2 separate regions of the Homo sapiens genome follow, and region 1 is linked to region 2. Evidence: fine-mapped expression QTL. A gene starts in region 2. The other region holds a variant in brackets. All regions are shown on one strand. Distances are between the middles of the regions.

The links. PIP is the estimated chance that this variant, and not a neighbour inherited with it, causes the effect. A credible set is the group of variants that fine-mapping cannot tell apart.
Region 1: its variant is the best candidate, but not a certain one, in a credible set for the expression of LINC02594 in whole blood (TOPMed, PIP 0.60).

Annotation. Positions count from the first base shown.
Region 1 is chr17:43,654,495-43,657,398 of GRCh38, reverse strand. The region is part of intron 1 of MEOX1 (mesenchyme homeobox 1); the gene reads left to right. Among named protein-coding and RNA genes, the nearest start is that of MEOX1, 6.0 kb to the left of the region's middle. The variant G/T (reference allele first, on the strand shown) is at 1,652.
Region 2 is chr17:43,663,529-43,666,432 of GRCh38, reverse strand. LINC02594 (long intergenic non-protein coding RNA 2594) reads right to left here and starts at 1,569. Exons shown (of 4, transcript NR_184089.1): 1 at 1,434-1,569. RefSeq lists an enhancer at 262-787.

The DNA.
Region 1 (2,904 bases), 9.0 kb after region 2:
CCTGGCCAACATGGTGAAACCCTATCTCTACTAAAAATACAAAAAAAAAAAAAAAAAATTAGCCAGGTGTGGTGGCAGGCACCTGTAAATCCCAGCTACTTGGGAAGCTGAGGCAGGAGAATAGCTTGAACTTGGGAGGTGGAGATTGCAGTGAGCAGAGATCACGCCACTGCACTTCATTCAGCCTGGGTGACAGAGCGGGACTACATCAAAAAAAAAAAAAAAAAAGAAAGAAAGAAAGAAAGAGAGAGAGAAAGGAAGAAAGGAAGGAAGGAAGGAGACAGAGAGAAAAAGAGAGAAAGAAAAAGAAAGAAAGAAAAGAAAGAAAGAAGGAAGGAAGGAAAGAAAGAAAGAAAGAAAGAAAGAAAGAAAGAAAGAAAGAAAGAGAAAGAAAGAAAGAAAAAGAAAGAAAGAAAATGAACAAACGGGGAGAAAGAAAGAAAGCAGGGTTCCTGGCCTTTGGCACTTCCCCACCCTGGAGACCAGCATGGTGTTATCTTACCCAAACCACTCCCAGCCCCAGGCCAATGGGGATTAAAGACCCCTGCTGGCAGGGACAGCTGTGAGGCCACTGTTGTTTTCCCCCAAACTGTCCTTGCTACTGTGGTTGTCTTTAATTTATGGGAATGAAGGATTTTGCGGTGGTTTCCTCATGGGGTTCAAGGGAAGGTTGCGTGTGATTAGAGTGGCTACAGGTGAATCCGATCGCCCGCCTGGGAAAGCCATGGTGCTAGAACTCAGCACTGCTCCCTCCTGCTCTCACGTCCTCACTCTGCTGAGACATGCCTTTAATCAGACGTGATTTGTCTCATCCTTCTTCAGCTCCAACACGTGTGTTCCCAGAGCTGTCCTGCCCCAATTTCTCTTTGCAAGACCTGCTCTATGCCTGCCTCCGCCCAACCACAAATTTGCCTAAGGTATAAAACTCCACAAATAGGCCTCTCTCCTCTTTTCCCTCCTGATGCCCCTTTACAGGCCACCTCCCCGCCCCAGGTCCCCTCCACTACCCCTGCCACGAAGCCACACCCAGGGACTGACCTTGCAAACACATCCTGCATTTTCTTCCCCCTCTCTGACTGTGCTCTGGTGGTTTCTCCTTGCCTAGAGCACTCTCCCCTTCCCCGTACTTCTGCCTGTTGAAGTCCTACTTAAAAACCACCCAGCTCAAAAACAACCCCTTCCAAGAATATTTTTGTTCTTCTTTTTCAAAAATTTATAGCTACATTTGCATATAACATAGTATCAAAGAAAGCTACAGTTAAGAAATGTCGAAGTCTAGTATCTGCTAGAATCTGTGTTGATTTTCTCACTTTAGCTTGCAGTTGTTTCATAAAGGAACTCTTCTGAGGTTTCTTACCTGGGACATCTTATATTTGAAATCTCCTTTTTTAAAAATTGGGGTCAAATACACATAACATAAAAGTTACCGTCTTAACAGTTTTTAAGTGATACAGTACAGTAGTTGTGCAATCGATTTCTAGAACTTTTAATCTTGCAAAACCGAAACTCTATCTCCATTAAACAACGACCTTTTTTCCCTTCCCCCACCCCCTAGCAATCACCATTCTTTCTCTTGCTAAACATTTGACTATTTTAGATACCTTACATAAGTGAAATCATGCAATGTTTGTCATTTTTGTGACTGGCTTAT[G/T]TCACTTGGCATAATGTCCTCAAGTTTCAACCAGGTTGTAGCAAGTGACAGGATTTTCTTCTTTTTTTTTTTTTTTTTTTTTTTTTTAGAAAGACAGGGTCTTGCTATGCTGCCGAGGCAGGTGTTGAACTCAGGGCTTCTAGCAGTCCTCCCACCTTGGCCTCCCAAAGTGCTGGAATTATAGGTGTGAGCCACCATGCCTGGCCTCCTTCTTTCTGAAGACAATAACATTCCATTGTATGGATATACCAAATTTCTTTCTTCTTTTTTTTTTTTTTGAGACGGAGTCTCACTCTGTTGCCAGGCTGGAGTGCAGTGGCGCGATCTCGGCTCACTGCAACCTCCGCCTCCCGTATTCAAGTGATTCTCCTGCCTCAGCCTCCCAAGTAGCTGGGACTACAGGCACACGCCACCACGCCCAGCTAATTTTTGTATTTTTAATAGAGACGGGGTTTCACCATGTTGGCCAGGATAGTCTCAATTTCTTGACCTTGTGATCTGCCTGCCTCAGCCTCCCAAAGTGCTGGGACTACAGGCGTGAGCCACTGTGCCCGGCCACCAAATTTCTTTATCCATTCATCTGTTGATGAACATGTAGGTTGCTTCCACCTCTTGGCAGTTGTGAATAATGCTGCAATGAACATGAGTGTGCAAATACCTCCTGGAGAGTGTATTTTCTTTTTCTTTTTCTTTTTTGAGACGGAGTCTCACTCTGTCACCCAGGCTAGAGTGCAGTGGCGCGATCTCAGCTCACTGCAAGCTCCGCCTCCCGGGTTCATGCCATTCTCCTACCTCAGCCTCCCGAGTAGCTGGGACTACAGGCGCCCACCACCACGTCTGGCTAATTTTTTGTATTTTTAGTAGAGACGGGGTTTCACTGTGTTAGCCAGGATGGTCTCAATCTCCTGACCTCGTGATCCACTGGCCTCAGCCTCCCAAAGCACTGGGATTACAGGTGTGAGTCACTGCACCCGGCTGGAGAGTGTATTTTCAATTCTTTTGAGTGTATACCTAGAAGGGAAATTGCTATATTATGTAGTAATTATATTTTTAATTTTCCAAAAAAATTATTTATTATTAGAATAAAATATAGAGACAGGGGTCTCGCTATGTTGGCCAGATTGGTCTTGAACTCTTGGCCTCAAACAATCCTCCTGCCTCGGCCTTCCAAAGTGCTAGGATTACAGGTGTGAACCACTACACCTGACCATATTTTTAATTTTTCCTTTTTCTTTTTTTTTGAGACAAGAGTC
Region 2 (2,904 bases):
GATCCCACCACTGCACTCCAGCCTGGGCAACAGAGCAAGACTCCGTCTCAAAACAAAAAACAAAAAAACAGAGCTGAGGTTTGAACCCACAGGCCCCCAATTCCCAAGGCCATGATTTGGACCCTTGTGTTATGTTGCCATAGAAGGTATCTGGGGGCTGGGATGAGCCGTCTTCACCTACATTGTGCTGTGTCCTGCCCAGTGGTTCAGCATAGTTAAGGACAAGCTATTCCTCACATGCATCACCCTTTATAGTCAGCCAGCTCTGTTCTCAGATGCAGTTCATTTATCCTCCTAACCGCCAGGTGAGGCCGGAACTGTCAACTCCATTTTGCCAGTGAGAAAAATGAAGCTCAGAGAAGGGTGTGATTTGCCTGAGACCACACAGCCGGTAACAGGCAAGGTCACACCTTGAACCCGTGTCTTCTGCCTCCAGGTCCAGGGCCTTGCCCTGACACCCTGCCTCTCCAAGCACAAGGGGGTGGGGTGGCCACAAACAGAAGCAGCCCTGTCCTGCCAAGTACACGCCTGCCTGCCACGCACAATGGGAGACATTCCGCAAGTTCCACGTGATGGCTCAGGTGTGGCCAGGCTGAAAGCCCTCCTGGGCCCCCCCACGCCCCTGGGGGACCTCCTCGTGACTCACACTTTTCCTCTTCCTCCCCTTATTCTCCCCAACAATCAGAAACCGGGGTCCCCTCCCTTCCTGAAAACAGAGCTCTCCTCATGAGGCCACAGGGCTTTTTCGACACACAGCTCCTTCCATCCATCTCTGTCTCTGGCCCTGTGGGGCCTTGACAGGGAAACGCTGACTTTGAGGAGGTTAAAGGTGCTGGTGCCCGGCCTTCATCTAACAAATGGGTTGCCGTGAGGGGAGGAACTGTTGTTGTTTTTTCCTGGCCTCAGAAGAGGGGCCTGTCAGGAAGATGTAGGGGCCAGCAGCCCCCGGCCGCGCCCCGCAAGGTGGCTGACAGACGCCAGCAGCTGCCGGGGGCTCCGGGGTGCCAGAGGCCTGTGTTCTCAGGGCAAAGCACCCCACCGCGCCCCCTCCCCATGGCCCTCCTGACCTCCCCACCCACCCCACCATGACCCAGGGCCCACCCCGTCCAGGGGCAAAGGGCCAGGCGCTGGGCCTCCCTGCCATGAGGTCCCTGGGCCAGATGCAGAGGTGGAGCAGGAATCCGGTTACAGCCTGCGGCCAGCCCAGGGGAAGGTTTTCCTAGGGAAGCTGACAAGCCAGATCTTCCTCCCAGCCTCCCACGGATTCCTTCCAGAACCCCCACAGCACAGCGTGCCCCCCACAAAGGACCTCACAAGGCTGTTTCTGTAGAATTTCCTCAGAACTCCCCATTCCCAGGTTCACCCTTTGGGATCATCGAGGTTAACCAGAAATAGATGTGCTAGGAAGGGAGCCACATTTGTCCATTACTTACTCTGCCTTTTGCATAAAGGATTTCTTTCTTTATTTCTTTTTCTTTTTCTTTTTTTTTTTTTTTGAGACAGTGTCTCACTCTGTCGCCCAGGCCGGAGTGCAGTTGTACAATCTTGGCTTACCGCAACCTCTCTGCTTCCCAGGCTCAAGCGATTCTCCTGCCCTCAGCCTCCCGAGTAGCTGGGATTACAGGCATGTGCCACCACACCCAGCTAATTTTTGTATTTCTTTTTTTTTTTTTTTTTGAGATGGAGTCTCGCTCTGTCACCCAGGCTGGAGTGCAGTGACGTGATCTCGGTGCACTGCAAGCTCTGCTTCCCGGGTTCACACCATTCTCCTGCTTCAGCCTCCCAAGTAGCTGGGACTACAGGCGCCCGCCACCACGCCCGCCTTTTTTTTTTTTTTTTTGTATTTCTAGTAGAGACGGGGTTTCACTGTGTTAGCCAGGATGGTCTCGATCTCCTGACCGCATGATCCACCCGCCTCGGCCTCCCAAAGTGGTGGGATTACAGGCGTGAGCCACCGCGCCCGGCCTAATTTTTGTATTTCTATTAGAGACGGGGTTTTACCATGTTGGCCGGGCTGGTCTTGAACTCCTGGCCTCAAATGATCTGCCTGCCTCAGCCTTCCAAAGTGCTGGGATTATAGGTCTGAGCCACCGTGCCTGGCCTACATAAAGGATTTCATTGAAGATTTGCAAATGTCTGTGGGCTGGGCTGCCTCAATTTGAATCCTGGGTCCGCCGCTTCCCTGCTGTGTGGCCTTGTGCAGGTTACACAGTCTATCTGTGCATCAGAGTCTTCTGCTGAAAAACGGAGCTGATAAAAAAAAAAGAGAGAGAGAGAAACGGAGCTGATGAGAATGACTGTTGCCTCAGAAGGCTTTTGTGGGAATCCGTGGGGGTAAAAATGTGTAAGGTGCAAAGTGCCTTACACAGATCCCACTCTGACTGTCATCTCAGATGAGGAAACAGAAGTTCAGAGAGATGGCCAGGCATGGTGGCTCATGCCTGTAATCCCAGCACTTTGGGAGGCCGAGGCGGGCGGATCACGAGGTCAGGAGATTGAGACCATCCTGGCTAACACGGTGAAACCCCGTCTCTACTAAAAAATACAAAAAATTAGCCGGGCGTGGTGGCGGGTGCTTGTAGTCCCAGCTACTCGGGAGGCTGAGGCAAGAGAATGGCGTGAGCCCGGGAGGCGGAGCTTGCAGTGAGCTGAGATCATGCCACTGCACTCCAGCCTGGGCGACAGAACGAGACTCCATCTCAAAAAGAAAAAAAAAAAAAAGAAGTTCAGAGAGATAAGGTGACTTGTTCCAGGGCACACAGCCAGGAAGTGGCAGACCTGGGGCTTGAACTCAGACCCGTCTAACCTCAAACCCCATGCCTCCTCCTCTGCATCTGGCCTGCTCCAAACTGAACAGCAGGACACCTGAGGCCAAGTGCTGATTCCACCATTTCTTAGCTGTGT